Homo sapiens: one gene and its partners. The protein of the gene in region 1 purifies or fractionates together with the protein of each later gene. This does not show direct contact. Each region holds a gene or a part of one and is shown in the gene's direction. Other genes may lie near its edges.

Region 1 (8,026 bases):
TGATCCTACTCCTTGTTTTCTCTCAGTATATGCTGAGAAAAAGAAAAATGTGTTTTCTGTAGTTTTTCTCCTTGTTGTTTACTGTGGTGAGTGCTACTTTATAGACATATTGTTCATAATTATTGTTAAAATTTCCTTTTTTTTTTGAGACAGAGTCTCGCTCTGTTGTCCAGGCCGGAGTACCGTCGTGCAATCTTGGCTCACTACAACCTCTGCCTCCCGGGTTCCAGCAATTCTCCCTGACTCAGCCTCCCGAGTAGCTGGATTACAGGCACCTGCCACCATGCCTGGCTAATTTTTGTATTTTTAGTAGAGATGGGGTTTTGCCATATTGGCCAAGCTGGTCTTAAACTCCTGACCTCAGGTGATCCGCTTGCCTTGGCCTCCCAAAGTGCTGGGATTACAGGTGTGAGCCACCGCACCTGGCCAAAATTTCTATTTTTAAGAAGTCACTGTTTTCACTTTGGGAAGTGAAAACTTCCCAGACTTAATGCATTAATTTAGTTTTAATTCACTTACCAAAGTGAAAACATCAAGAAAACATAAATTTAATAACTTATAACATTTAGAAAGCTCATTTAAAAGCTCATAGACTTTTTTTTTCCTATTGTGTGTGCCACCAGAATTGACTTAGAGAGTCAGAGACCAGCCTTTGGTCTTGATCTGGCCATTAGCCCCACCTGCCAGAAGTGGTTACAGGCAGATCCCTGAAAATGAAAGGCCCTTGCATCAGCACAGTGTAGGCTGGCAAAACTTGCCATATACTCCATCTTCCTGGTACAGTAAGAAGTGACCAAAAGAAAAAGGAGTGTTAGATGAATAACGCCACCTTATTCTGGAAATGTAGAAGCAGATGCGTTCTCATACGTACACTCTGTAATTTGAGCCTTACAGCTACGTACAGGGTGGAACAGAACCTAGATAAGGAAACAGATGGAACCAAAAATACTTAAGATGGAAATGCTGGAAAATATTTAGTTTCTGATTTTTTTTTTTTTTTGAGACAGAGTCTTGCTCTGTCACCCAGGCTGGAGTGCAGTGGCGCAATCTCCGCTCACTGCAAGCTCCGCCTCCCAGGTTTACACCATTCTCCTGCCTCAGCCTCCTGAGTAGCTGGGACTACAGGCACCCGCCACCATGCCCGGCTAATTTTTTGTATTTTCAGTAGAGACAGGGTTTCACCGTGTTAGCCAGGATGGTCTTGATCTCCTGACCTCGTGATCCGCCTGCCTCATGCCTCCCAAAGTGCTGGGATTATAGGCATGAGCCACCGCGCCCGGCCACGTCTGGCTAATATTTTTGTGTTTTCAGTAGAGACAGGATTTCACCATGTTAGCCAGGCTGGTCTCAAACTCCTGACCTCAAGTGATCTGACCGCCTCGGCCTCCCAAAGTGCTGGGATTACAGGTGTGAGCCACCATGTCCCACCTTGTATTTACTGTTTATAAAAGAAAAAGGAATTTTATTTGTATCAACTGGCTAATTAATGCAAAATTTGTTTAGTGATTTTGCTAAGCTGAACTCACACTAATAAAGGTAGTTATAAATATGTAATTTATGGAAACCCATTATTTTGTTGCTCTTTGAGATCCTTCTTGTTTTTCTTGTTTGCACTAATACAGATTTTAGGCTATCTGAAAACTGTCAGGAAATGAAAAGTCATGCAGTGAATCATAAAATGAAGATGCACAGTTGATCCTCATTCTTCACAGATTCCGTATTTATGAATTGACCTCATTAAGTCTGTGTAACCCCAAAGTCAATAATCGAGGTGTTCTGTGGTTACTCTGGGACACAGTGAAGAGTGGTAAAAAATTTGGGTTGCCTGTTGCAGGCATTCCCAGCTGAGATGGAACAAGGCAATCAAAACTGTTTTCTTGTTTCAGCTCTCGTACTGCAAACAAGTGTCTTTTTTTGTGGTCTATTTAGTGGTATATTTTTTCGTGCTTTTTTGAGGGGAGAGGGGTGATTTTTTTTATTTTTATTTTGAGACCAATCATTAAACAGCATCATTTCGTTGTTTAAAACGGCCCTCTGATGTAGTGCTGAGCTGAGGTCTAGTGTTTCTAAGTGCAAGAAGGCCACGATGTACTTACAGAGAAAAGGAAAAGGTGTGTATTAGATAGGCTTCAGTCAAGCGTAAGGTATAGGACAGTTGTCCATGTGTTCAGTGTTAGTGAATGAACAATATGTATTTTAAATAAGGTGTCCTTAAACAGGAATGTACAGAAACACACATAAAACAAGGTTATATATTGATCAATTGATAAAAATGTTATGACAGGTTTGCACGAACCAAACCCTGTATTTATTATAGGAGTAATGGTTCAGTACTTGCTAATTGGTGTTTGAGGTGACTTTATAGAAGATAACTACTGTGAGGCCGGGTGCAGTGGCTCACGCCTGTAATCCCAGCACTTTGGGAGGCCATGGCGGGCGGATCATGAGGTCAGGAGATCGAGACCATCCTGGCTAATGCGGTGAAACCCCGTCTCTACTAAAAATAGAAAAAATTAGCCAGGCGTAGTGGCGGGCACCTGTAGTCCCAGCTACATGGGAGGCTGAGGCAGGAGAATGGCGTGAACCCAGGAGGTGGAGCTTGCAGTGAGCAGAGATTGCGTCACTGCACTCCAGCCTGGGCGACAGAGTGAGACTCCATCTAAAAAAAAAAAAAGACGATAACTACTGCGAATAGCAAGAATCAACTGTATTTTAGTGAAATTTACAGTATCTTTTTTACATAGAGTTCTAGAATTTTTAAATGTTTTTCATGTATATTATCTTTGGTTTTCATGTTGGCCTGTGAAGACAGGTGGATATTATTATTATTTTTTTTTTTTAGAGACAGGGTCTTACTCTGTCTCCCATGCTGGAGTGCAGTGGTATGCTCATAGCTTACTGCAGCCTCGAATCCGGGGCACAGACAATTCTTCTGCCTCAGCCTGCTGAGTAGGCAGGAGCCAGGTGCACACCACTGCACACAGCTAATGGTTAGAATTTTTTGTAGAGATGGGGTCTCGCTTTGTTGCCCAGGCTGGTCTTGAAGTCCTGGCTTCAAGCTATCCTCCCACCTTGGCCTGTCAAAGCACTAGGATTATAGGTGTGAGCTACCTTGCCCAGGCTATTATTCTTATACATATGAAATACTGCAAACTAATATTTAGTTCCAAATTGGCTTTTGTCTTAAAATGGTTCACCAAGTAGTAATAAAATTCTCTTTCTATTGTTTGTTTTTTGGTAAATTTAATTTAGCCTGATGAAAACAAAGGCGATATGCATTATGATGCTGAGATTATCCTTAAAAGAGAAACTTTGTTAGAAATACAGAAGTTTCTCAATGGAGAAGACTGGAAACCAGGTGCCTTGGATGATGCACTAAGTGATATTTTAATTAATTTTAAGTTTCATGATTTTGAAACATGGAAGTGGCGATTCGAAGATTCCTTTGGAGTGGATCCATATAATGTGTTAATGGTAAGATGGGATGAGGGCAAGGGCAACGTCATTAAGTTTCCTTTTTAAAATACTTTCCAAACTCCACCATAATTACGTTAAGAACCTGTACTAGGTCACTTATACCGTATTGATGAACAAGCCACAAAATTGTAGAAATGATTTTGTGCTTTTGAGTCCAGTTCTTTTTAGCTGTCTTAAGTGTTTTTGGTGGCTGATTTCTGCTTCTCTCTGTTTTAAGGTACTTCTTTGTCTGCTCTGCATCGTGGTTTTAGTGGCTACTGAGCTGTGGACATATGTACGTTGGTACACTCAGTTGAGACGTGTTTTAATCATCAGCTTTCTGTTCAGTTTGGGATGGAATTGGATGTATTTATATAAGGTATTATATGGATGGAGGGTTTTACAATTTTAACACATTTATTCACAATGAAAGAAGACTCTAATCCATTGAGAGCAATCTTGCCTTGGATGTGGGTTGGAGGCAGTGATTAGAGGTGGCCCACGCTGGAGAGGAATTAAATGGACACTTCTTAGCTGACAGTTTTTTGATTCCTTGACCAGTTAGTGGGTAAAAAAGTTCAGTCCTAATTTTCATAACCCAGTTAATGTTAACATTTGGGCATCTAAGTCAGAATAAAGCCAGGTGGGTTGGGTGTGGTGGCTCATGCCTGTAATCCCAGCATTTTGGGAGGCTGAGGTGGGCAGATCACTTGGTCAGGAGGTCAAGACTAGCCTGGCCAACATGGTGAAACCCTGTCTCTACTAAAAATACAAAAATTAGCTGGGCCTGGTGACGTGCACCTGTAGTCCCAGCTACTCAGCAGGCTGAGGCAGGAGAATTGCTTGAACCTGAGAGGTTGCAGTGAGCCAAGATTGCGCTGCTGCACTCCAGCCTGGACCACAGAGTGAGGTCTGTCTCAAAAACAAGGAAGAAAAAAAAAAGAATAAAGCTATGTGGATACATTTAAAAATTATCATGTAGGTAATTTAGAGTATGTCATTCTATGTCTTTGCTAGAAATGATACCAAAATATTATTTTTTAAAAATTAGGTTATTTTTTGAATAAGTGGTATATTCATGGCAGAGAATTTAGAAAAGGCAGATACAAGGAAATTAATTTTTAAAATAACCTATAATTTTATCACCTAGAGAAAATCTGTCAGTAGTTTAAGGTATTTCTTTCTAGATTTTTCTAGATTTTAATTATCTTTCAAAGTTGGGATCATACTGTATATAGAAATTGGAAAGGACCACTACTGTTCCCATCAACATAGCATAAATAATAATCATTGAAAGAAAATTTTAGATCTTTCTAGCAGAGTGAGTCAAGTAGCCAAGTATTTTCAATGATTTCATCTGGTTAAAGCATTGTGACATTTCCTTAACCTTTTGCTGTAAGTATTATAGTATTTAGAACTAATTATTTACAAATTAAACACAGATTCTGTGTGGAAGGAAAGTTGCTTGAGTATTGTCACCTTAATGATTGTATATTGGTCATTGTACTGGAAATTATCCAGTGCAAAATAGGATATCATCAACTATAAAAGAAAATAAGAAGTAGTCATTTAATTTGTATGGCTAGAACTAATTGTTGTTGTTGTTGCTGTTGTTTTTGAGACAGTCTCACTCTGTCCCCCAGGCTGGAGTGCAGTAGTGAAATCTCGGCTCAATGCAACCTCCACCTCCCGGGTTCAAGCGATTCTCTTGCCTCAGCCTCCTATCTGGGACTACAGGCCCGTGCTATCACGCCTGGCTGAACTAATTTTTAAAAACAATATTTTTAGTAAAGTTTCCCTTTTTCATTATAATTACTTACAGAGAAGGCAATTGTAGTTAGTACTTTATGCTTACTTGTTGCATTAAGGCTGTACTTTTCCATGAACTGGAAATAGCTACTCTTTACAAATAATATGTTTTCCTATAATCCTAGCACTTTGGGAGGCTGAGGCGGGCGGATCACTTGAGGTCAGGAGTTCAAGACCAGCCTGGCCAACATGATGAAACCCCGTCTCTACTAAAAATACAAAAATTAGCTGGGCGTGGTAGCGGGCACCTTTAATCCCAGCTACTCGGGAAGCTGAGGCAGGAGAATCGCTTGAACCCGGGAGGTGGTGGTTGCAGTGAGCCGAGATTGTGCCACCGCACACCAGCGTGGGTGACAGGGCGAGACTCCGTCTCAGGAAAAAAAGAGAAAAAATAGTAATAATAATATGTTTTTTTTTAATTAAAAATTTATAACAGTCTGGTTTGGATGAATGGTAAAGACACTCTTTGAATGAAGGTCTTTTGGATGTGTAGGCCTAACCTTCATAGGTAACGGCCTCTCCTGGTTCCCTTTTGGTGTTGGGCAGCTAGCTTTTGCACAGCATCAGGCTGAAGTCGCCAAGATGGAGCCATTAAACAATGTGTGTGCCAAAAAGATGGACTGGACTGGAAGTATCTGGGGTAAGGTGTTTGTGCACTTGTCCTTATTTTGAATAGAAATTCTGAGAATGAAAGAACATAGAACAAAGAGAATGATAAAATAACAGGAGGCTTTCCATGACTGAATCTTTAATATCAGAAGAACATGCAAGAAGCATTTTAGGTTTAAAACCAGTGACTTTTTATGCTCATCTAAAGTCACAGGGAAGGAATAGAAGTTGTATATATGTTGGCTCTGATATTATCTGTCTTCCTTCATAAGACTGTGTGAAGGATCCTATGCTCGCTTTTGTTCATCTCGTTCTTTGCACAGGGTCTGGCATATTCTCAATAGAAGTTTATTAAACAAGTGAATGAATGTATATATGAATTAATATCCATCTTAAATTTAATGGCCTTATATTGACTTGTGAAATTTTATGTTGTAGCTTTACTTTTTTTTAACTACGGGAAAAATTAGTTTTTTTATTCTTTCACATTTTATAAACATTCTCATGAATGTTCACTACCTTTGGTTGTATGTATCTAGCAATGGGGATGGTTTAATAATGTTCCAAGGCATTTTATAAATGCAAGTCCATGACTGACACGGAATTCTGCAGATGGAATCCAAAATAAATGTTTCTTAAAAAGTTGTGGGAACTAAACCAATTCAGCCTTCCTTCCTGGCTTCAGTGGACAGTGAAATGCCTCCTCTAGCTCAGGCTAGTTTCCCAACGTATATAAGCCTGATTTGGAAAAATTAGAACTAATATTCCACTTTATTTTGTAAACTCCATAAAGAACTGACTTTTTAAATTAAAAATTTACTGAGGTAATTGTGGATTCACACAGTAAGAAATACTACAGAGAGAGCCCGTGTACCCTTTCCCCATTTTCCTCCAGTGGTGACATCTTGCACAGCTTTAATAGTACAATATCAGAGCCAGGATATTGACTTTGATACAATCCACCAGTCTTATTTCGACTTCCCATTTTACCTGTACTCATTTGTGTTTGTGAAGCATTGCTTTTAAAGTGTTTACCTTTTAGACATTTTTATAAAATACAATTTTTTATCTGCATAAAACATGTATAATTTGAATGGATTTTTAAAACATGATTTTGGACATAAGATGAAAAATTTAAAAATCAGCATTACAGGGAGTCTACTTAAAACTTAAGATAATTTAAAACTCATTGGTGGGTGGTCAGGGAGGGTCAAAACCAAAGTAATGTCTTGTTTGGGAATGAAATGCAACATTAAAAGAAATGATCAGTGTTTTGTCTGTTTCTCTAAACAGAATGGTTTAGAAGTTCATGGACCTATAAGGATGACCCATGCCAAAAATACTATGAGCTCTTACTAGTCAACCCTATTTGGTTGGTCCCACCAACAAAGGTATAGCATATATTTTGTAAAAATTACTTAAAGTCAGTCAGAAATCCCTTGTATTTTAAAGAACTTTAGTGTTTGAGTCATTTTGCTAATAAGCGTTTGTCCAAGAAAAAATACTTTTGCACAGTGATTTTCACATTAAAAATGGCACAACAGCATTTTAATTTATGTAACATACTTTCAGCATCAGTACTCAATGAATTTTGATGCATTCTGTACCTTAGTCCTGTGAGGAGAAAATTAAGTTGCTTTTCTCTCGTTTTAGGCACTTGCAGTTACATTCACCACATTTGTAACGGAGCCATTGAAGCATATTGGAAAAGGAACTGGGGAATTTATTAAAGCACTCATGAAGGAAATTCCAGCGCTGCTTCATCTTCCAGTGCTGATAATTATGGCATTAGCCATCCTGGTTAGTATTAATATATTAGCACTGTCGGGCCAGGCGCGGTGGCTCACGCCTGTAATCCCAGCACTTTGGGAGGCCTAGGCGGGCGGATCACGAGGTCAGGAGATCGAGACCATCCTGGCTAACACAGTGAAACCCTGTCTCTACTAAAAAAAATACAAAAAATTAGCCGGGCGTGGTGGCGGGCGCCTGTAGTCCCAGCTACTCGGGAGGCTGAGGCAGGAGAACGGGGTGAACCTGGGAGGCGGAGCTTGCAGTGAGCCGAGATCGCACCACTGTACTCCAGCCTGGGCGACAGAGCAAGATTCCGTCTCAAAAAAAAAAAAAAATTATACATATATGTATATTTATATAT
Region 2 (8,103 bases), on another chromosome or scaffold:
TTAAAGGAAAATAATTATTCCTTCAGTTCAATAAATATTTATTTATTACATGTCTCTATGCCAGCTGCAGGGCTGGAAAAATAAACATTCTAAACAAATCTGGTTGGTTTGATTTCAAAACATATTTAAAATATCATTTGGTATAGTCCCATTTATTTATTTTTGTTCTTGTAGCCTGAGCTTTTGGTGTGATAGTCAAGAAATCTTTGGCAAGGTAAATGTCAAGGAGCTTTTCTCTTATATTTTCTTCCAGGAGTTTAACGGTTTGAGGTCTTACATGTAGGTCTTTTATCCATTTTGTTTTTGATTTGTTTGTGTGGTGTAAGACAACAGTTCAATTTCATTCTTTTGTATGTGAAAATCCAGTCTTCCCAGCACCATTTATTCAAGAGACCATCCTTTCCTCATTGTGTTCTCTTGGGGCCCTTGTGAAAAATTAGTTGACCGTGTATGTTTGGATTTATTTCTGAGCTATTTTGTTCCATTGGTCTACATATCTGTTTTTATGTCAGTGCCATTCTGTTTTATATAAATTTGTAATATAATTTTTAATTAGGAAGTGTTATTTCTCCAGCTTCAATTTTTTTCTCAGAATTGCTTTGGCTATTTGAGGTCTTTTGTGGTTTCATACAAATTTGCATTGAATCTATATATTACTTTGGGTAGTATGAACATTTTAACAATATTATTTCTACATCAAACCAAAAACTTCTGCATGGCAAAGGAAACAATCAACGAAATGAAATGGCAACCTATAGATTGGAAAAATATATATCTGCAAATCATGTTCTCAGAAAAGGGTTGAGTTTCCAAGATTTATAAAGAACTTATACAACTCAATAGCAAGAAAACATATAACCCAATTTAAAAATGGGAAATGGACTTGAATAGACACTTCTTCAAAAATGACATAAAAATAGCCAACAGGTATATGAAAATGTGCCCAGCATCACTATTCATCAGAAAAATGCAAATCAAAATCACTATGAGATACTACGTCATACCTGTTAGGATTGGTATTATCAAAAAGACAAGAGATAACAAGTGTCGGCAAGGGTGTAGAGAAAAGAGAATCCTTGTACACTGTAGGTGGGAATGTAGGCTGGTGCAGCCGTTATGGAAAACAGTACGGAGGTTCCTACAGAAATTAAAAGTAGAACTACCATATGACCCAGAAATCCCTCTTCTGGGTATATACCAAAAGCAAATGAAATCACCGTCTCCTGAAGATAGCCGCACTCCCATGTTCATTGCAGCATTATTCAGAATAGCCAAGATAATAGAAATAATCTAGGTGTCCATCAATAGACAACTGTATAAATAAAGATACATATATTCCATGTTGTGTGTATACACACACACAGATACACACAAAATAGAATATTACTCAGCCTTATAAAAGAAGGAAATTCTGCCAGGTGCTATCACATGGATGGACCTGGAAGGCATTATGCTAAATGAAATAAGCCAGACACAGAAAGAAAAATTTTGCACAATCTCACTTATATGAAATTAAGAAAAGGTCAAATATATACAATAGTGGTTTATAGCAGGGGTCCCCAAGCCCCAGGCCACGGACCTGCACATGTGAGGGATCTAGGTGCATATTTCTTAGGAGAATCTAATGCCTGATTATCTGAGGTGGAGCTCAGGCAGTGATGCTAGCATCGGGCAGCAGCGGCAAATACAGATTAACATTAGCAGAGAGTTTTGACTGCACAGAGACCATAATAAATACATTGATTGCAGACTCATATCAAAACCCTATCAGTGAGGGGCAAATGACAAGTGACAATTAAGCTGTGTCTGGAGGCAGGCTTTATAGTGGAAAATTGATGTACTTCAATTGTACAGTTGCATCTGGTGGCAGGCTTTAAGTCAGAATCCAACACTTATTTTAGTCTGTGCATGGCCCACCCATTATTTTACCACTTCCATCTGCACCTCTTTTCCACACTGTGCACTTGTCTTAGTCACAGTTTTGCTAAGCCCACAAGCTAACCCTTGTGAAAAACAAGGGTTTTTGTTAAAAAAAAGTTTTTGTTAAAAACATCAAAGTGAGTGAAAAACAAACATCACTGGACAGCTTCTTTGAAAATGGGGAAAAACCCAAAGGTGAGATAACAGAAGACTCTAAGACTGCTAACAAAAAGAAAGCTGCACTTAAAGGAAAATGCCAAGAGTCCTACTTAAATTACAGGTTCATTGCAACAGGTGGTTCACATTCTCCAATCCTGCTTTGTATAATATGTGGTGACCAACTGCCCAATGAAGCCATGAAACCTGCAAAACTACTTTGCCACATGGAGACCAAGCACTCTGCATTAAAAGACAAGCCTTTGGAGTTTTTTGTTTTGTTTTGTTTAAAAAAAAAACAGAAACCATGAAACCATGAACACAAAGAACACATAGAAGCAATTATTGAAGGCCACCATGTCATCAAATGTGTCTGCACTGAGAGCATCATTCATAGTGGCTAACTGCATTGCTAAAGCTAAGAAGCCCTTTACTATTGGTGAAGAATTGATCCTGCCTGCTGCTAAGGACATTTGTTGGGAACTTTTAGGAGAGGCTGCAGTTCAAAAAATAGCACATATTCCTCTTCTGGCTAGCACCATAACTAGATGAATTGATGAAATAGCAGAGAATATCGAGGTACAATTGTTAGAGAGGATTAATGAGTCACCATTAATCCTCTCTAGCAATTGGTATGCAATCCAGGTTGATGAGTCTACTGATATTGACAACAAAGCAACAATGCTTTTTTGTGTGTGATATATTTTTCAGGAAGATGTGCACAAGGATATATTATGTGAATTTTTGTTGCCAATCAAAACCACAGCTGAAGAACTATTTGTCTTTGAATGATTACATATCAAGAAAACTGAATTGGTTATTTTGTGTAGGTATATGCATGGAAGGAGTGGCTGCCATGACTGGATGGCTTTCTGGTTTCACTACTCTGGTCAAAGAGACCAGAATGTGAGTCTATGCACTGTGTCATCCACAGAAAAATGCTGGCTAGCTGAAAAATGTTACCTGAACTTAACAATGTTTTGCAGGATGTGACAAAAATAATCAACCACATTAAAGTACATTTTCTTAACTCACATCTGTTTGTGCAGCTCTGTGAGGAGATGGACACTGGGCATGCATGTCTTCTCTTATACACAGAAATGAGATGGCTTTCTAAAAGTAGATCACTGGCTGAAATTTTTGAATTATGAGAGCTGCTCCAGAGATTTATTTTAGAAAATCAGTCACCATTGGCGGCACATTTCAGTGACACAGAAAGGGTTGCAAAACTTGCTTACTTGTGTGATGTATTCAACTCGATCTATGAACTCAACTTGTCGCTTCAGGAGAGAAGGACAACTGTGTTCAAGGAAGCAGATAAATTGGTTGCATTGAAAGCCAAACTGGAATTATGGGGGCAACGAATGAACATTGAGATTTTTGACATGTTTCAAACATTAGCAGAGATTTTGAAGAAGACTGAGCCAGCAGCTTCTTTCTCTCAGCTGATGCATGATCACCTATCTTAGCTTTCAAAAGAGTTCGAGCATTACTACCCAACCACAAAAGAACCCTGAACTGGGAATGAATGTATCCATGACCCATTTGTGAGTAAGTCAGGTGAATCGATTTTGTCCGTACTAGAAGAGGATCAATTGCTTGAGATCACAAATGATGGTGGCCTTAAAAGTATGTTTGAGACAGCTTCAAATCCCATGTTCTGGATTAAACTCAAGGTGGGATATCCTGAGATTGCCACAAAAGCACTGAAGAGTCTGCTTCCATTTCCAACATGCTATCTTTGTGAAGCAGGATTTTCTGCAGTGACAGCAACCAAAACAAGATTACGGAGTAGACTGGACATAAGCAACACACTTCTGGTGTCACTGTCTCCCACCGTTCCCAGATGGGACCTTCTAATTGCAGGAAAACAAGGTCAGGGCTCCCACTGATTCCACATTATGGTGAGTTGTATAATTATTTTATTATATATTACAATGTAATAATAATAGAAGTAAAGTGCGCAATACACGTAATGTGCTTGAATCATCCTGAAACCGTCTGCCACCCGGCCCTGGTCCATGGAAAAATCCTCTTCCGTGAAACTGGTCCCTGGTGCCAAAAAGGTTGGGGACCACTGGTTTATCCAGGGTCATCCAGGTTGGAGTGGGGTCAGGAGAAATGGGGAAATTTAGGTAAAAGTATACAAAGTTACAAACACGTAGGATGAACAAATGGGAAGACCTAATGTACAACATGAGGGCTATAGTTAATGATAGTGGTATTCAGGATTTATGCTAAATAAGTAGATTATAGCTGCTCTTGCCCCAAGGGGGGAAATGTGTAATTATAGGAGTTGATGGATATGTCATACAAATAACTTAAATACACAGAATAAAAACTATTTTAGTTTAAAAAGGAACAATATTTATAAAAAAATAAAGTGAGCTCGAAAACATTCAAATAACTGCTTAAAAATTAAAAAGTAATATCACATAATTTAATAGAAGGAAAGAAAGAGCAAGACAGCAAGAAAGAAAAGGCACCATAAAGAAAAACAATTTTGGCCCCTCCTCATTTGTAGTCTTAAGCTGCCTCTACTCCCTCGCCTTGAAAAGCCACGGGCTTCCGAGGGATGGAGGTCAAAGCCAGAGTAAAGAAAGTTCCCGGGGGAGGCCACTCCCCAGCTGATGACTTTCCAGTTCCAGTTAGTGTCGGAGTCCCAGTTCCTCTCCTTAACCACCGGACAAACGTCTCTGGAGTCTCTCCAATGAGCAAGAAAGCAAGTCGGGGGTAGGGGAGGGGCCTCACACCAGGGGGTGGGCGCAGTCCCTCCTCCAGCTCCTTCACCCTCCAGTAGTCTCGTGGGTCCCCGAGCGCCAGCGCGGGAACCGGGAAAAGGAAACCGTGTTGTGTACGTAAGATTCAGGAAACGAAACCAGGAGCCGCGGGTGTTGGCGCAAAGGTTACTCCCAGACCCTTTTCCGGCTGACTTCTGAGAAGGTTGCGCAGCAGCTGTGCCCGGCAGTCTAGAGGCGCAGAAGAGGAAGCCATCGCCTGGCCCCGGCTCTCTGGACCTTGTCTCGCTCGGGAGCGGAAACAGCGGCAGCCAGAGGTGCGCGGGCGGCTTTCTCTGCCGCCTCCTGGGGACTTGGGCGCGGGAACTGCGCGGAGCCTGCGCTGGGGCCAGGGCCGGGGTCAGGTGTGGAGGGCAACTTGTGGGGAACCGGCGCGAGGGCCCGCAGGTTGTGTTTGCTGCTCTGGGGGTGGAGGATGTGGGGTGAAGGTTGGGGCCAGAAATGCAAGAGGCCTCTGAAAGGGACCCTGGAAGTGGAGCAGGTACACGGCAAGGGGCCCCAGGCGGCCCAGCGGCACCCGGGCTCACCCCAGAACCATTCGAATGACAAGGGGTGCCCTGCCTGAAAACGCCTTGCGGGGCTCAGCTTCCCCTTAGCTACACTGCTTTACAGGTAGAGAGCGGCCCTGAATCCTGGGTAGAGTCTGGGCTCAGGAGCATGTGCCAGCGTAGTGGGGCTATTAGAAGGAATGGTTAATACAGCCTGCAAGCTGTCATTTATCAGTAAGTATTCAATGAAGTCCGCCGGAGCCCACATCTATGCTAGGCCCTCTACAATACCAGCTTAGGAAAGATAGTGGCGGTATCTAGCACGGTTCCTAAGACCATTAGCTCCAGTCAGGCTCCCCGACTTTAAATTCGGCCTCTACTGCTTCACGTCTGTGGACTGTCAGCCACTTTCTTCTTATATATGTTCTTTCCATTGCCTCATCTCTGAAATTGTGTAACTATTAAATGAGCTACAGAGTATTAATGTAAAATTCTTAGAGCAGTGCCTGGCGCTACAGAAAGTACTCAGTGAAAGTTAGCTCTTATTATTTTAAATATTTGACAAAGTTCCTGCTTCTCCAAGCTGATTCTCTGGTTCCCAGGTGGTTTCATTCATGCACTGTTATTCCTGGAAGTCTTGGCATGGCCACTTCCCAGTTCCAGGAACAGGCAGTCGTTGTTTTTTCTGGCTTATCACATTGAGATACATGGTTACTACAAGTGACACTTAAACGTGTCAGACAGTTTGGGGGCTCCCTTCTTGAACTTTTTCTAAGAGCAAACCTTTGTCTTAATGCCACCCTGTTTACAACAATAGTAGGGCTTTGAACAATGAGAAAATGCGGGGAAATGAAAAAGACATATAAAGGGAAAGAGTGGATTTATGCAATTGGATAGAAAAGTGGCATGTAAAATAGCTGGTTTATAGATCAAACTGCCTTTAGATCTGTAAAGGAGCTTAGAGTACATACAGGTGGAGAGACATCAGATGTGTGTGAGCAGACCCTTATGTACTTCTCCATCTTCATCTCTAAGAATGTCTCCCTCTTTTGCTCTGTAACCTCACTCGTCTTCCTTTACTTGAATGAGGGACGTTCCTCCAGCTCAGGAATTCTACCTATGGAGTTCCCTCTATCTATGATGCCCTCCAACACCCCACCCACCATACCTCCATAGACTAGTTGATTTGAGACTTCCTTCATCTCCTAGTCTGACTTTTCTTAAACCCCCTACCACCATCTAAGTTAGTGCCCCATAACCCTTTCTTATAGCAACATTAATTTTATTTATAGCACTTAGAGTATTTTTAATAATATATTTAATTCTTAATTGTCTGTCTCCCCTAGTGTCTAGGTATTGTGCTCTAGTGCCTGGTATAGTGCCTTGCATGCTCTATGCCTTCAATTAATTCCTTTAAAACCACACAAGCTTTATATTTAGTGAATATTTATATAGGAAGAATTTCTATGTGTATATATGTGTATCTGTGTATATACACACTGTATTGCACTGCCCTGAATAGTGCTAAATTAAAAAACCAAAACACTTTTTAATCAGAACTTAATAGTTGCACTCTTCAATTTTCCATATGTTCTTTTAAGAAGTGATTAGAAAAAAATGATGTCTCCATATGTTGTCTGCTGCTGTAAAAGAATACCTGAGACTTGGTAATTTATAAAGGACAGAAATTTATTTCTTACAGTTCTGGAGGCTAGGAAGTCCAACATAATCATGTGTTGCTTAAATACAGGAATACATTCTGAGAAATGCATCATGAGGCAATTTTGTGGTTGTGAGAACGTCATAGAATTTACTTACACAATCCTGGATACTATAGCCAGCCTACTATTTAGGCTGGGGTGGTGGGGTTGGGGGTGTTGAGGAGAGTCAGATTGAGAGCTGAGGGAAGTCTCAAATCAACTAGTCTATAGACGTGTGGGTGAGTGGGTTGGTGGAGGGCATTATAGACAGAGGGAACCTCACAGGTAGAAGTCCTGGGCTGGAGGGAACTTGGCTCATTCAAGAAAAGGAATGACCAGTGAGGTGGCAGATAGCCTACTAGACCTAGACTGTGTGGAATAAGGTGTTGCTCCTAGGCTAGAAACCTGTATAGCATGTACTACTGTAATGAATACTGTATGCAAGTATAATACAATGTCAAGTATTTATGTATCTAAACATAGAAAGGGTACAGTAAAAATAATCTTATGGGACCACCATCATATATGTGATCTGTTGTTGTGGTGCATGACTGTATGGAGGCACCAGCATCTTGTGAGGGTCTTCTTACTGCATCATCCCATGGTGGAAAGTGGAAGGGCAAGACAGCAAGAGAGAGTGGAACTTGATTTCCTTACAAGCCTACTCTGGCAATAACAAACCCACTCCCAAGATAACGACATTAATCTATTCATGAAGGTAGAGTGCTTATAAACTAATCATATTTTATTAGGCTCCACCTCCCAACACTGTTGCATTGGAAATTAAGTTTCCAACACATGAACTTAGCTCACACATTCTAACCATAGCACCTGGCCTAGTTAAAGCTAAGTGGCACAAGAGTAAATTGAAATTCAAGCCTTTTCTGTCTTACATAAGAAAGATAACCTTAAAAGAGTCTTTTAACAAATTTCACTGAAGGATGTCAGTCTTCCTTTTTTCAGTGAATTAGAGACATCGGTGCAAAGAATATGAATTATTAATCATCTTAATTCAGCTAGTTAGCAAGCTGTATCACATTT
Region 3 (8,260 bases), on another chromosome or scaffold:
CTATGTCATTCAGGCGGGAGCCCAGTGGTGCCATTATCTTCACTGCAGCCTCGAACTCTTGGACTCAAGTGATCCTCCCACCTCAGCCTTCCAAGTAGTTGGGACTATAGGTATGTGCCACCACACCAGGCTAATTGATTTACTTTTGTGTGTGTGGAGATGGGGTGTCATTATGTTGCCCAGGCTGGTCTCGAACTCCTGGCCTCAAGTGATCCTCCTGCCTTGGCCTCTCAAAGTGCTCGGATTATAGGTTCAAATATTTTTAAACGTCTAAAAAGTATATAGTAAAAAGTCACTTCCACCTTTGTCTCACATCCTCCACTCCCTCTCCCCCTTATGTAACCACTTTTATAGGTATTTTGTGTATCCTTCCAGAATTTCTTTACTCAAATTCTGATGAATATTCTTGGTTTCCCTGCTCTTTGACATAAAAAGTATCATATTGGCCAGGTGCGGTGGCTCACGCCTGTAATCCCAGCACTTTGGGAGGGCGAGGCGGGTGGATCTCTCGAGGCCAGGAGTTCGAGACCAGCCTGGCCAACATGGCAAAACCCCGCCTGTACTGGAAATACAAAAACTAGCCAGGCATGGTGGTGCACACCTGTAATCCCAGCTACTTGGGAGGCTCAGGCACAAGAATTACTTGAACCTGGGAGGCAGAGGTTGCAGTGAACCGAGATCACGCCACTGCATTCCAGCCTGCGTGACAAGAGTGCAACTCTGTCTCAAAATAAAATAAAAAATAAAATAAATAAAATGTATCACACTAAGTATATGGTTTTGAATCTTTCCCTTTTTTATTTAAAGAACACCTTGGAGTACTTTCTCATTCTCTGTTGCAGCCACATAGTATTTTATTGTATGGATGTATCAAGATTTATTTTTTCTGTTTCCTATTGATAGAAATATGGGTTATTTCTAATCTTTTGCTGTTACAGAAAAGCTGCAATGAATAGCCTTATACATACGTTTCTCGTGAGTGCAAATATATCTGTAGAATCACTCCCATTAGTGGGAATGGTATGTTTGCAAGTTTGATGGATATTGCCAAATTAACCTTATAGGATTTGTACCAATTTTCACCCCCATCACCAACAAATTAGAATGCCTGCTTATCCACAGCCCTGCAAATAATGTTAGCAAATGTTTGGATTTTCGCCAATCTGATAATGATATCGGTGGGGTTTAATCTGCCTTCTGATTACGACCCAGGCTGAACATCATTTCATGTGTTAGGGAGTCATTTGTTTTTCCTTTTCTGTGAACTGTCTGTCTGTAAATGTCATTTGCCATTTTTTTCTAATGGTTGATCATATTCTTACTGATGTCTAAGAGTTCTTTACATGCAGGAAGATTAGCTCTTTGTGATGTAAATTACAAATATATTTTTCCAATTTGTCATTTGACTATATGGAGTTTTGACTTTGTAGAAATTTTGTCCTGACATTAGTCCTGGAACTAGTCCAGTTGTTTCTGCTTCCTGGATATTTCTGGAATCCCCCCATTTCTCTCTACTGTACTGCCTCTTCCCTAGGCCAGTCTGCCATCATCACACCTAAATGACTAAATTTGATTCTAAATGGTATCTCAGACATACGTCCACTCTTGCCCTTTCTTTAACCTATTCTATATTCTTTAGCAACCAGAGGGATTTTTCCTTTTCTTTTCTTTATTTTTTTGAGATAGCCTCTATCACCGAGGCTGGCAGAGTACAGTGGTGTGACCACGACTCACTGCAGCCTCGACCTCCCGGGCTCAAGCAGTCCTCCTATCTCAACCCCTCGAGTAGCTGGGATCACAGGTGCGTGCCTCTATGCCTGGATACTTTTTTAGAAATTTCTTGCCGAGATGGGGTTTCACCACGTTGCACAGGCTGGTCTTGAACTCTTGGGCTCAAAGAATCCTCCTGCCTTGGACTCCCAAATTGTTGGGAATGCAGGCATGAGCCACTGTGCCTGGCCCAGAAGCATTTTTCTAAAAGAAAAACACAAGCCAGGAGCAGTGGATCACGCCTGTAATCCCAAGTTTGGGAGGCCGAGGCAGGAGGATTGCTTGAGGCCAGGAGTTCTAGACTACTCTAGGCAACAAAGTGAGACTCTGTCTCTATAAAAAATTTAAAATTAGCCAGGCATGGTGGCAAGCACCCACTGTCCCAGCTACTCGGGAGGCTGAGGTGAGAGGATGAACTGAGACCAGGAGTTCAACGTTGCCGTGAGCTGTGACTGCACCACTGCACTCCAGCTTGGGTGACAGAGCAAGACCCTGTCCCAATCAATCAATCAATCAAACAAAAACAAGATCATATCACTTTCCTGCTTAACATTCTTCAGTGGCTAACTAGTGCCCTTAACATAGAATCCAGTATCTTCATGTGGGATCTTACATGGGCTCTAAGGCGTCCCTGCAAGGTCTGGCTCACAGTTCTTCAGCGTCAATTTTTTTTTTTTTTTTTTTGAGACAGAATCTTGCTCTGTCACCCAGGCTGGAGTGCAATGGCACGATCGCGGCTCACTGCAACCTCCGCCTCCCAGGTTCATGCAATTCTCCTGCCTCAGCCTCCCAAGTAGCTGGGATTACAGGCACGCACCACCATGCCCAGCTAATTTTTGTGTTTTTAGTAGAGACGAGGTTTCCCCATGTTGGCCAGGCTGGTCTCGAACTCCTGACCTCAAGTCATTTGCCCGCCTTGGCCTCCCAAAGTGCTGGGATTACAGGCATGAGCCACCGCACCCGGATCTTCAGGGTCATCTTTTATCAGTCCCCTTACCAGTATGCTCTGGCTACACTGAACTCTTTCATGCCCTCCCCCTCTATAAGCCTTCTCACCTCTAGGCCTTTGCATAAGCAGTTCCCTCTTCCAGGAACCCTCTTCACTTGCTTAACCTGCTCTCACCCTTCAGATTTCATCTCAGACATCACTTGCATCAGGAAACCTTCCCTGACTACATCAGAATAGAGTAGGTGCCTCACCTATGTGTTCTCCTCACACTCCATGCTGTCTTTATGTCAGCACTAATCATATTATGTGTTCACTTTTCTGTCTCTCCCATTAGGTAGACCATAAATTCCATGAGAGTATGGACTATGCCTGTCTCTTCATTATTATTTCCCTAGTGCCTGTCACAGGGCCTGGCACATAATAGGTGCTCAAAAAATATTTGTTAAATTAATGTAAGAAAGAATGTTTGATAAATGACCAAATAAACATCTTCATCTCATTGGGGAATCTACGAGAATGAAGAAAATGCCAAAGTTTGATCCTGTTCAAGAAAGTAGCTAATTACTACTACTTTTTTTTGTAGAGATGAAGTCTCACTATGCTGCCTAGGCTGGTTCTGAACTCCTGGCTCAAGCGATCCTCCTGCCTAGGCTGCCCAAAGTGTTGGGATTACAGGTGTGAGCTGTTGCACCCAGCCACCATTTACTTCTTAATTCCACCTGCCAGAGAAAGCACTGGCCTGCAACTCTTTCATTTTTGTTAGTAATCTCATTTGGCTCTGCCCTGGTTTTCCCAATGCCCAGGTCCCACTGTGACAAGCAAAATACCCAACAACCTGTAAAGTAGGCCTGACCAATCTGAGGGCAGTTTACATGAGCAGGAGGTAGGCCCAGGAGAGTTCCTGGGTCCTAAGAGTTAACCCTTTAATCATTGGACAATGGAGGTGGCAAGATCGCTTGAGGCTGGAAATTCAAGACCAGCCTGGCCAACACAGGGAGACCCCATCTCTGTATTAAAAAATGAATAGCACGTGCCTGTAATCCCAGCTAGTCGGGAGGCTGAGGCAGGAGAATCGCTTAGAACCCTGGAGGCGGAGGTTGCAGTGAGCTGAGATTGCGCCACTGCACTCCAGCCTGGCGACAGACCAAGCCTCTGTCTCAAAAATAAATAAATAAATAAATAAATAAATAAATAAATAAATAAATAAATAAAAATAAGGCTCGGCGCAGTGGCTTATGCCTGTAATCCCAGAACCTTGGGAGGCCGAGGCAGGTGGATCACCTGAGGTCAGGAGTTCGAGACCAGCCTGGCCAACATGGTGAAACCCCGTCTCTACTAAAAAATACAAAATTTGCCGGTCGTGGTGGCGGGCACCTGTAATCCCAGCTATTCGGGAGGCTGAGGCAGGAGAATTGCTTGAACCCAGGAGGCGGAGGTTGCAGTGAACCGAGATCATGCCACTGCACTCCAGCCTGGGCGACAGAGCAAGACTCCATCTCAAAAAAAAAAAAAAAAAAAAAAAGAAAAGAAAAAATTAAAACTTTTTTTAGAAAGAAAGAAAACCAGCCTGGCCAACATAGTGAAACCCCGTCTCTACTAAAAATACAAAAATTAGCCAGGAATGGTGGCGCACGCCTGTAGGCCCAGCTACTCAGGAAGCTGAGGCAGGAGAATTGCCTGAACCCGGGAGGTGGAGGCTGTGGTGAGATCGCCCCACTGCACTCTAGCCTGGGCAAGCGAGCAAGACTCCGTCTCAAAAAAAAAAGAAAAAGAAAAGAAAACACTTAATCGCTGCCCTAAAGGATGCCATCTTTGCCCTTAAGGATAATTAGGTTAGAAAGAGAAGCCATACATAGAGAAAAATAGAGGTACCATACAGGTCACCTGCAACAGGTGCTAAAAAAAGGAAAGGGCCACAAACACTCCATGGGTAGTGCAGTTATGTCAGTTTCAGTGCCAGGTGTTGCGTACAGCACGGAAAACATAACCCCTTCCTGTACGTGAGAAAGGCAACGACTGTCCTGGGGAAGACAGGGCAGCGAAGATTCCAGTGCAGGTCTCATTCAGGAAAGGATACATGTGAGCTGGAGTGGCAAAATAAATTTTAACAGAGCTGAAGCTTAAGTTGGGCTTGGTGGGGAGGGACGCATGATAAACTAAGGTGTGGGGAGCCGATTTCAGGCAGTGCGACAAATTTGCAGAAATCTAAGCCCCTCGTGGAAGGTTGCCAAGGTGAGGTGACCTTGAGTGAATGCGTGTAGGTGGAAAAAGGTTCCGGGGAATGCTTGCATCGTTCTGCATCCGAGCGTCCAACAGAGAAAAGATCCTGTTTCCAGACAATACCTGCATTTGGTTTTTCTCCAGCTGAGGGACACCGGTAGGGGGGGGGAGGACAGAAACGAGCAGGGGGTGGGGCCAAGGCGAGTGGGCGGGACCGCGCGGACCCTCCCGCGGCCGACTGGAGGCCCGGAGCAGGGGCGGAGTTTCCGGCGGCAGCGCCACTCGGGCGTCGGGTGACGCTAGGCGGACGGACCATCATGTGACACGGAAGTAGCTCCGAACAGGAAGAGGACGAAAAAAATAACCGTCCGCGACGCCGAGACAAACCGGACCCGCAACCACCATGAACAGCAAAGGCAAGGACCGAGGGTGGCAGAGGCCGTCGGGGGGAGTACTGCTGGCCCAGAGCGAGCGGATTCGGAGCCCAGGGTCACCAAACGCCAGGTTTGGGGTGGGCTGCGCCATGCTCCTTGGCCGGCTGCAGTCCAGGGCGCTGCGCCTGACGCCTTCGTCATACCCAAATTACGGCAGCTTGCTGCCTCCAGGCCCTTTCCTCCGTAAACTCTGTGGCGCAGTTTGGAGCTGCGGGCTCGGGTGGTGGGGGGGCTTGACATGATGGGCATCCGCAGGAGCAAATAGAGCGCTAGCGCAGGCATTCGCGTAGGCCAATGGAGAGCCGGCGGAGGCGGGGCGCCGCGCTCCGGAACCCCCAGCGGGGCCGAACTTAACTACTGAATTGCTGGAGTTGGTTCGTGGGCCGGGGCCTGTGAGGTCTCTTTTCCTTCCCTTCGCACCCCCTCGCCCTTCGCTGACGGGATCAGAACTTCTCCCCTTTTCTGTGGTTGTACCAGTGTGTCTGTCGGAACATGATTCCCATAACGCAGGAATAGGTTGAGGGGGTAAAAAAGGAATAGAAAAAAAAAAAAAAAAAAGGCCGAGCGAGGTTGCTCACGCCTGTAATCCCAGCAGTTTGGGAGGTCGAGGCGGGCGGATCACCTGAGGTCAAGAGTTCGAGACCAGCCTGGCCAACGTGGTGAAACCCCGTCTCTATTAAAAAATACAAAAATCAGCTGGGCGTGGTGGCGGGCGCCTGTAATCCCAGCTACTCGGGAGGCTGGGGTAGGAGAATTGCTTGAACCCAGGAGACGGAGGTTGCAGTGAGCCGAGATCGCGCCACTGCACTCCAGCCTGGGCAAAAGAGCGAGACTCCGTCTCAGAACAAACAAAAAACCAAACCTGATCCCCCGCTTTTCCAGTGAGGATATTCCTCCTCACCCCTCAGCCCTGCACCCTTTTCCCAGTCTCACGGTTCACTTCCATCATTCACACCCTTTGTTTGGAAGTCGACCTTGAATAGTAATCTGTAAGGAAAATCAGAACTGCTGTTACCCACGAAGTCTGGGCTGGTTGTAGACAGGCTGTGGAGACTACCTAGAGCAGAGGCACCCTTGATAAGCCAGAACAGCAGCAGGCCAGAACCCCAGACCTGTCCTGCATTCCGGAGGGAACTTGGGCCCAGGTAGACTTAACCCCTTACTTCGGTATGTTAGTAGGAGCAGTGAGCAGTGCCTTTCTTGTCTCGTTAGAATCCAGCACCTTCCATTTTAAGGGTGCAAAGACAATGCATATTTTCTTAGTTCCAGGAATCAGGCCCTCTGGGGCAGACTATTTGCAAATCCCCTTCTGCTTGCTCCCACTAAGTTAGCTACCCGATATGACCTGCCTCATTTTGGTAGCTCTGTGTAGTAGGCAACCTTCATTTTTTTCTTGTCTTTCAGGTCAATATCCAACACAGCCAACCTACCCTGTGCAGCCTCCTGGGAATCCAGTATACCCTCAGACCTTGCATCTTCCTCAGGCTCCACCCTATACCGATGCTCCACCTGCCTACTCAGAGGTGCTTCCAGTTTGCCAGATTTGAACTAGCTGGGAATACTCTTAGGGTGGTCCTTTAGTCCTTAGCTAAATCTGACTTCACATATTTACTCTTCACAAATGCTAACATGAATAATCTAAAACACTATATAATTTGGCAATTTTTGTCGGAGTTGAAAGTGCATTATTTGATGATTTTGTGTTATTTGGCACAGGCTAAGGTGCAGAAGATGAATTTGCGTTCTGTGAGCCCAACATTAGCTATAGCAGAAAGTGATCCAGGAGAATATTGAAGGCCAGTGGAAAGGCAACTTGTATAATCTTACAAAAAGTATAACCTGCATAAGGAGAATTAAGAATTAGCTCATTAAAGAGATCTCAAATAGGAATGTCATAAAGTAACATTTTGCCTTCTCTTCTGCCTCTTCTAGCTCTATCGTCCGAGCTTTGTGCACCCAGGGGCTGCCACAGTCCCCACCATGTCAGCCGCATTTCCTGGAGCCTCTCTGTATCTTCCCATGGCCCAGTCTGTGGCTGTTGGGCCTTTAGGTTCCACAATCCCCATGGCTTATTATCCAGTCGGTCCCATCTATCCACCTGGCTCCACAGTGCTGGTGGAAGGAGGGTATGATGCAGGTGCCAGATTTGGAGCTGGGGCTACTGCTGGCAACATTCCTGTGAGTATGACCTCATCAGAAGAAACTCAGCCCTTGTGTATTTTAACTTTCTGAAATGACTTCATATTCATTCTCTTACCATTTCTGGATGATAGTTGCCAGTGTTGGTACAACTACTGACATCCAATACTCAGGCAGAAAGTGTTTGAGGGGGCAGAACTGTGGCAAGTGAGTAGCATCTCACTGGGGGCTGAGTTAACCAGATTCTTTTGTTTTCATGTCTGTCGAGTCCTGCTTGCTGCTTTTCCAGTTCATTGTGGTACACTGAACTGGTCTAGTAATGCTCCTTATTCATTCCATAAGCATTTACCATTTACTTAATATTTGCCATCAGCATGGTGTTGCACTAGGAACCCTGATAATTAAAAAAGTAGAATGTATAATCCCTAGTAAGTAGCTTTTAGAAAGATATTAACAATTTTAGTTATCATTTTTTCCTACTTAATTCCCCAGTGCGTGGGATTTAGAGCTCAAATGACTGCTCAGTAACTACATGCTAGAGATGAAGTGAATGTGTCATTAGCGAGCCTTCAGTTTTCCAGTAGTTCATTCAAAAACTGTGTAAGGGCGAAGCACGGTGGCTCACCTGAGGTCAGGAGTTTGAGACCAGGCTGGCCAACATGGTGAAACCCCGACTCTACTATAAATACAAAAATTAGCCGGGCATGGTGGCAGGCGTCTGTAATCCCAGCTACTTGGGAGGCTAAGA
Region 4 (8,057 bases), on another chromosome or scaffold:
CTCAAAGTACCCAAAGTCCATTGTATCATTCTTATGCCTTTGCGTCCTCATAGCTTAGCTCCCACACATCAGTGAGAACATATAATGTTTGTTTTTCCATTCCTAAGTTACTTCACTTAGAATAATAGTCTCCAATCTCACCCAGGTTGCTGCAAATACCGTTAATTCATTCCTTTTTATGGCTGAGTAGTATTCCAGCCTGTGTATGTGTATATATACATATATGTGTGTGTGTATATATACATATGTGTGTGTATGTATGTGTATGTGTATATGTGTGTGTGTGTATCTATATCTATCACAGTTTCTTTATCCACTCTGATGGGCATTTCAGTTGGTGCCGTGATTTTGCAATTGCAAATTGTAACTGCCATAAACATGCGTGTGCAAGTATCTTTTTTCGTATAATGACTTCTTTTCCTCTGGAAAGATAGCCAGTATTGGGACTGAGTATTTGGGGTGTCTCCCAGGTCCTGCAGGAGCAGTCCCCTTGCTTCAGAAGGTCTGTAGGTCCTCTCTGGATTCCTGGTTTGTTCTTACAGTCGTTCTGGAGCTAAAATTCATGATGTGAGCCTCTGTGTGCTGCTCTGTCCATCTGAGTCAGAGCTCGGAGCTCCAATCTAGTCCTGTCTCCCATCCACCATGATCAGCAGCTAACTCCCTTCTTATTTTTTGATAGCAGCCAAAAAATATGGATGTGAGGTGGTTTTCCTCCCCCTGTTTGTTGAGATCCACTGCTTTAGGTTAATTGCCAGCATCACATACATACAAGCTGATTGAGCTCGAGTTTATGTAACTATTCTTGTCCAATCTGTTCTTTTAACAATCTCTTATGGCCTGGCTTTTTGTGCTTTTTTTTTTTTTTTCTGTAATGGCAACCTTACTGGTGTAATTAGTAGTCCAAATATATTTGGATAGTTCTTATGCTTATGTACTAAGCAGCTAAAGAGGGAATATTACAGGATGGTTAAAAGTACAGACTCTGGAGATGAAATGCTTGTCATGGATCTCTGAATCTGTCACTTGCTAACTTTCTGATTGGGGGACAAATTAACTTCTGTCTTATTTTTCTTTTTATCATCTGTAAAATGTGGTATACCTTCTTCATAGGGTCATTGTAAAGGTTAAATGAGGAAGACAGTGCTTCCTGACTTTTTTCACATGGCACATATAGAAAATGATGAATTTTTACAGGTGGGTAAAAGAATGAGCTACAAGGAAATCCTACATAGACCTTGCATGACCGCCTCCAGGACTGGTGGAATCAGTAGTCCAGCTATACTTCCCGCTCGTTAATGGGCCACAAGTATATCATAGGATACATGTTGAAGAGCTGTGAATTCATTCATGAAAAATATTTTAAATACATAGCAGAAGTTTAGAAAGCCTGAGTCATTGTTTCATATAAGTAGAGAGGACACTGCAGTAACTAAAGAACTGCCATTCCTGCCAGGCAAGAAACTCAGCATCTTAAACTATAGACTGTCTGTCCTAGAGGTATTAAAGTTTTCATACTTCATAAAGGTGTTAAACATTTGCATCTGTCTTTCAGATATTGTTCCGGTATCTTACAACTTTTAGTCAACACGCGATTAGAGCTCAGTTAAGAGCTCATTAAGTCTTTGGGCTACATATTGCTTATTGATTGTGGTTATCATTTCACTACCTAATTCTCACTTTTGTCTATAATTAGGGTCGTCGGGCTGTTAAAGCGGGAGCTTATGCTGCTTGCCAGGAAGCAAAGGAAGATATAAAGGTAACTTTCTGAATTAGGGGGAAAAAGAGAAGTTAAAGATGAATGTACATTACAAGAGCCCAAGTAGAATAATTTGAGTGATGATGTCGTTGAAGTGGTTTGGGGCACCTAGATGCAGAGATTTGGAACTGGCAGGGTTATGTGATTTCTTCATTTGAAGTATAAATCCCTTAACTAAAAGCAAATTTTAAATGCTATTTTTTTGGTTCGTTCCCTTCATTTGTAGAGTCATTCAGAAAATGTCTCTCAACATCCACTTCATGTAGAAGTATTACACTCAGAGATTATGGCTCATCAGAAATTTGCTTTGCGTCTTGGTTCCTGGATGAACAAAATTATGAGCTATTCAAGTAAGCATACCTCCTGTTTTTCTTGTTTCTGATAAAATACTATGTGTTTTATAGCCACAAATTTTAAAATGTCATTGAGTATGAAATAAAGTTTTTCTTTTTTTTTTTTTTTTGGTTTATACACTTTGATTAATTTTCAGGGTTGCATTTCAAATGTATAATATCTTAGGATATTATTTCAAGTGCATAGTATCAAATAATATCTTTTTATTGGCTGTTGAGTCTTTGATGTTGACAGAATTATTCTTTGCCTCAAATGTGGGAGGATTAATATTATTCTTTTCACATGTTATAGGAAATGTACTTTTAGGAGAAATGTTATAAGAATAAAAATTATGGCTGAGTACAGGGGCTCATGTCTGTAATGCCAGCACTGTGAGAGGCTGAGGTGGAAGGATCGCTTGAGCCCAGGAGTTCAAGACCAACCTGGGCAACAGAGTGAGACTCATCTCTATTTAAAAAGAAAAAGAATACAAGTTGTGTAACTGTGTGACCTCTTTTGTTTGTAGGTGACTTTAGGCAGATCTTTTGCCAAGCATGCCTTAGAGAAGAACCTGACTCGGAGAATCCCTGTCTCATAAGCAGGTTAATGCTTTGGGATGCAAAGCTTTATAAAGGTAAGTAGACATTTGCTTATGCTGTTTGTCAGGAAGCAAAGGAAGATTATGACCTTAAAGTGGAGCTGTAATATCTTTTGTTTATTAAATTAGTTATTAAATCTGTAATCTTGATTGATAAGATACTACATGTGAATATAAAGTTTAACCAGTCAGTATGTATTCTTTGGTGTTAAAACCCAGGGATGTTGTCTTTTAATTATAGAGTCTTTTCATTTAGTGAGAGCCAGTCAAAAAGAGTATATATGTATGTGTCTATACATGTATCTATATATTCAGGTAGTAGTGCCATTATCGAGTAGCGAAAAAGATGCTATTTTCATTGTAAAAATCTAAATGAAGAACAAAACGTAAAAGGCTAAAAGCATGGAGAAGGAAAAGTACAGTGAAATAGAAAAAGAATGAAAAGGTTGGGAGAGAGTAAATTGAAGTGTAAGATGAAGTGGTGGGAGGGGTGCAGAAAAAGAGGGAAAAGGCAATATATGTGTGTATTTTAAATTCCAGTTATTAAATATTAATACAATAAATACTATTTGAGGTCTGTTTGCATGTGAAGTAATTTTATAATATTCTGCCACTCTAATAGCCAGAATGTTTTTGGTTTTTGCCTTGGTGATTCTCCTCATTCCCCCACCCTCCCCAAAATAATCTATAGGTGCCCGTAAGATCCTTCATGAATTGATCTTCAGCAGTTTTTTTATGGAGATGGAATACAAAAAACTCTTTGCTATGGAATTTGTGAAGGTAATTATTTATAAATTAGATATCAATAAATAGAAATAGGCAGTTTTTATAAATGAATTAATAGAAACAGGGATAATTATGAATCAAAAATTAAATGTTATGATTTATTTCTTTGTCAAAAGTTTGTTCTTGGCCCTGCGGGTTGGCTCACGCCTGTAATCCCAGCACTTTGGGAGGCTGAGGTGGGTGGATCATTTGAAGTCAGGAGCTCGAGACCAGCCTGGCCAACACGGTGAAACCCCGTCTCTACTACAAATACAAAAATTAGCCAGGCATGGTGGCAGGTGCCTGTAGTCCCAGCTACTCAGGAGGCTGAGGCAGGAAAATCACTTGAACCTGAGAGGCAGAGGTTGCAGTGAGCCAAGATCGCGCCACTGCCCTCTAGTCTGGGCAACAGAGTGAGACTCCCATCTCAAAAAAAAAAAAAAAGTTCGTTCTCATACGTTATATAAATATTTTCACAAATGTTATTTGCTAGTATAGAAACAGCATTCTTAGAGAAGAGATAGGTGGAAAATGACCCACTGACCCAGAGCAAAGGGAGGTTATCACATTCACATATGCATTCAGTCTTCCTAATCATTTATTTGCCTGTTAGTAAAATTACAATAAGAATAGAAGTGACTAATTGAAAAGTATAGCAGGAAAGAAGAACAGATGTGTATGCTAAAGTGGGGGGCAGGAATTAGGTGGCCAAGAGTTCTACTTAGTTTTTGGAAGCTAAAGCATAAGGCTAAAATTTACAGCTTTTTAATGTTTTATTAATCTATCGTGTATCTCTTACCTTACTGTATCTTTTTGTCTATCTACCAAATTAGATTGCAAGGGTATACAGATCAAGGACTCCTTTGAATCTTTTATTTTGCCTTATATAAGGCAATCATACTTGCCAGTCATACTTGTTGATTTCCTCTGATTTTGAGTTGCAGTCAATTCTGTAAGACTTAAGATAGATATAGGACCCAAGATGGAATTGGAAGCAGAGAAAGAAATAATGATTGTTGTAGGCAAATGACACTGTGGGATAAGATACCTGCATTACCTGGATTTTATATGCAGACTTAAAAGTAACTAAGACATTTGTTGTATGTCTTATCCTTCAGCAGTGATGGCAACTCAAGATGTTCTCTTCTAAAACTCTTCAGATATAGAATATTGGACCATATGTGTGATCTGAAATGAAATTTTGTTTTCTTATACAAAAGCTAATCTCCCTACTTAGATGATTTTTTTTGTACACCATGGTTACCCCTTAAACTTTGTAGGAATTCTGGAGGGTAAAGTATCTAACTTAAAGTAGGTTAAGTATCCAACTTTGTGCCTTACACATAATAGATGCCTATTATGTGACTGAGTATATTCCTATTTTTGTTCTCCCAGTATATCAGGGTTGTTTTGCAGCTGTTATGTACCAGTATGGGAAAGAAGTTATTTGCAGCCAGCATCCATTCTGTTTAAGGCTGGATTCAATCTGATTGGTTGGTTTTTCTGGGTCATATCAGTTGTTAAATACTTTGAATATATTCCCTGCCCAATACCATTAGAGTGGAAGCTGCTAAAGATTGCCCCAGATTCTGTTTGGAGAAAGGATAAACTATACCATTGCAGTCCTCTGTTTTTTGTTTGTTTGTTTGTTTGTTTTTTAACCTATGTGTATATTTTAATAGTTTCCACTTCTATCTCTGCTAAATTGAGTAGGTGAATTTTTACTTGATTTGTTGTTTGTTATTCTCCTTCTAAGATATTTTTGCTGATCATAATATCTTGCCTTAATAAATAGGAATTATATTACTTGACATTTTATAGATAGAAACAAACCTGCAGCAGTTATTAAAATTGGGATTTTTTAAAGGTCTTTAGTAGTGATTTATAATTGATTCTCTACTTATATATTTCAGTATTATAAACAACTGCAGAAAGAATATATCAGTGATGATCATGACAGAAGTATCTCTATAACTGCACTTTCAGTTCAGATGTTTACTGTTCCTACTCTGGTATGTATTGATTATTCCTTTTCAGTCTTTCTAAGTAAAACTTGTTTTGCTTTGTAAGAATTCCACTTAATGTTGAATCAAATTAGAACAATGTTAGAATCACTAAGTTGGGCTATGTGAATACTTTAGTGCTACCCAAGGACTAGTTAACTAGGCGCTGCCTTGGTTCAGATGTCCTCGTCAATGCAGATGACACCTAGAGCTGGTTTCTTACTTTCTAGAGTAACTTATGAACACTGCCTTTTCAATACCAAAAATATTTTATTTTTAAGTTATTGTTTGTAGGCAGATAGAATAAGATAAAACTAAGAAGTGGGAGGGTGTGCCTGTCAAGCATTTGGGAGAGAGGGTGCTGCATAGGCCTGGGAGGAGAGTGGAAGATTCTGCTTCCTTTGTATACCACTTCTTTTCTTTGTTTTTTGTTTCTTGAGACAGAGTCTTGGCTGGGTTGCCCTGGCTGGAGTGCAATGGGACGACCTGGGCTCACTGCAGCCTCCGCCTCCCGGGTTCAAGCGATTCTCATGCCTCAGCCACCCAAGTAGCTGGGACTACGGGCAGGCACCACCACGCCTGGTTGATTTTTGTATTTTTAGTAGAGACGGGGTTTCACCATGTTGGCCAGGCTGGTCTCAAACTCCTGACCTCAGGTGATCTGCCAGCCTTAGCCTCCCAAAGTGCTGGGATTACAAGTGTGAGCCACCGCGCCCAGCCCTACTTCTTTTCTTGTCTGGAATTAGATAGTTATCCAAACTTGGTTAATTGTTTCTACTTTACTTTTTCAAAAGGATGGAGAGGAGAGTTTAGATTGGGGTAAGGAGGAGATTTCAGAATAGATCGTAGTGTGCTAGAAGTCATGAAGTATATCTTTGTTATACTTGCTCATTGTGTGATTTTTTTTTTTGAGATGAAGTCTCTCTCTGTCACTCAGGCTGGGGTGTAGTAGCACGATCTCGGCTCACTGCAACCTCCGCCTCCTGGTTCAAGCGATTCTCCTGCCTCAGCCTCCTGAATAACTGAGATTACAGGCATTGCCACCACACCTGGCTAATTTTTGTATTTTTTGTGGAGATGGGGTTTTGCCATGTTGACCAGGATAGTCTCGAACTCCTGAGTTCAGGTGATCCGCCTGCCTCGGCCTCCCAAAGTCCTGGGATTACAGGCATGAGCCACCACATTACTGATGATAAACATTTATCTAGATAACCTGTCTAATGGGCTTGGAGTATCCAGATAGGTGTTGTCTAGTTACTGAGGAGTAGGGAATTTTTTCTTTTAGAAAATAACTTCTTAGTAGTTGCTATTCAGTGAAACTAAGGACTGTGTTTAACATTCAATAACAAACATTTATTAAAAATGACATACTGACTAACCAAATGAATGAATAAATTAAGTCCATACCACAATGAGTTAATGCTAAAGAAAATATTCTTGAAATATTCCGCAGGCTCGACATCTTATTGAAGAGCAGAATGTTATCTCTGTCATTACTGAAACTCTGCTAGAAGTTTTACCTGAGTACTTGGACAGGAACAATAAATTCAACTTCCAGGGTTATAGCCAGGACAAATTGGGAAGAGTATATGCAGTAATATGTGACCTAAAGTAAGTTGTTCAAGTCAAAAGGTGAGGGCACCTGTTAAACTCAGTGTGCTTATTTGCTGTGTCTTATAAGTAATCCTGTGATCATTTTGGTTATCCAGAATTCTCTTTATAATGATGGCAAGTACAAAGAACTGTTACTGCCTCGCGTTAATAAATGTCTTCAGTGAAGGCTTCTTATTGAGTTGTAAAACCTGGTTAGTAAAGAAGGTATTGAGGAGAGGCCCATTACAGGAACTTGGGATCTCCTGGGGTCACCAAATGCATTGCCATTGTAATTACCATACTTTTCATTCACTTCCACTCACACACTTTGGTTCTGTCCTTCCTATATAGTCTCTTTGTGCATAGTTTCAGACAATCTATTGACATAAATTTCTTTCTTTTTTTTTTTGAGACAGGGTCTCGCTGTGTTGCCCAAGCTGGAGTGCAGTGATGCAAACATGGCTCACTGAAGCCTCAACCTCCTGGGCTCCAGTGATCCTCCTGCCTCAGCCTCCCATGTAGCTGGGACCACAGGCACGTGCCACCATGCCTGGCAAATTTTTTATTGTTTTGTAGAGACGGAGTCTCACTTTTTGTTGCCCAGGCTGACTTGGACTCCTGGGGTCAAGCAGTCCTTCTGCTTTGGCCTCCCATAGTGTTGGGATTACAGTCATGAGCTACTGCGGCTGGCTGTTAACATTTTTTTAACTCCTTTTTGCTATACAGTTGATCCTCCGTATTTGTGGGTTCCACATCTGTGGGTTCAACCAACCGCAGACTGAAAATACTCCATTTTTTAAAAATTGCCATGAGGCTGAGGCAGAAGAATCGCTTGAACGCAGGAGGTGGAGGTTGTAGTGAGCAAAGATTGCGCCACTGCACTCCAGCCTGGCAACGGAGTGAGACTGCATCTCAAAAAAAAAAAAAAAAAATTGCGTCTGTATCAGACCAGCCTGGACAACATAGCGAGACCTTGTTTCTACAAAAATAAAAATAAAAATTAGCCAGG

Evidence for each region.
Region 2: the proteins of CLCC1 (region 1) and PLSCR1 purify together in Homo sapiens (co-immunoprecipitation; 3 studies listed by BioGRID and IntAct, with this or other methods). This does not show direct contact.
Region 3: the proteins of CLCC1 (region 1) and DAZAP2 purify together in Homo sapiens (co-immunoprecipitation; 3 studies listed by BioGRID and IntAct, with this or other methods). This does not show direct contact.
Region 4: the proteins of CLCC1 (region 1) and UBR1 purify together in Homo sapiens (affinity purification with mass spectrometry; 3 studies listed by BioGRID and IntAct, with this or other methods). This does not show direct contact.

Annotation. Positions count from the first base shown.
Region 1 is NC_000001.11:108,939,284-108,947,309, reverse strand, and holds part of CLCC1 (chloride channel CLIC-like protein 1 isoform 1 precursor), read left to right. Parts: intron 1-3,252; coding exon 3,253-3,474; intron 3,475-3,694; coding exon 3,695-3,835; intron 3,836-5,811; coding exon 5,812-5,905; intron 5,906-7,167; coding exon 7,168-7,265; intron 7,266-7,527; coding exon 7,528-7,674; intron 7,675-8,026. UniProt on the Homo sapiens protein: Anion-selective channel with Ca(2+)-dependent and voltage-independent gating. Permeable to small monovalent anions with selectivity for bromide > chloride > nitrate > fluoride.
Region 2 is NC_000003.12:146,541,495-146,549,597, reverse strand, and holds the start of PLSCR1 (phospholipid scramblase 1), read left to right. Parts: upstream 1-4,990; 5' UTR 4,991-5,131; intron 5,132-8,103. UniProt on the Homo sapiens protein: Catalyzes calcium-induced ATP-independent rapid bidirectional and non-specific movement of phospholipids (lipid scrambling or lipid flip-flop) between the inner and outer leaflet of the plasma membrane resulting in collapse of the phospholipid asymmetry which leads to phosphatidylserine externalization on the cell surface.
Region 3 is NC_000012.12:51,233,566-51,241,825, forward strand, and holds the start of DAZAP2 (DAZ-associated protein 2), read left to right. Parts: upstream 1-5,260; 5' UTR 5,261-5,342; coding exon 5,343-5,355; intron 5,356-6,777; coding exon 6,778-6,896; intron 6,897-7,305; coding exon 7,306-7,551; intron 7,552-8,260. UniProt on the Homo sapiens protein: In unstressed cells, promotes SIAH1-mediated polyubiquitination and degradation of the serine/threonine-protein kinase HIPK2, probably by acting as a loading factor that potentiates complex formation between HIPK2 and ubiquitin ligase SIAH1.
Region 4 is NC_000015.10:43,053,751-43,061,807, reverse strand, and holds part of UBR1 (E3 ubiquitin-protein ligase UBR1), read left to right. Parts: intron 1-1,693; coding exon 1,694-1,756; intron 1,757-1,982; coding exon 1,983-2,106; intron 2,107-2,615; coding exon 2,616-2,723; intron 2,724-3,378; coding exon 3,379-3,467; intron 3,468-5,365; coding exon 5,366-5,464; intron 5,465-6,908; coding exon 6,909-7,066; intron 7,067-8,057. UniProt on the Homo sapiens protein: E3 ubiquitin-protein ligase which is a component of the N-end rule pathway. Recognizes and binds proteins bearing specific N-terminal residues that are destabilizing according to the N-end rule, leading to their ubiquitination and subsequent degradation.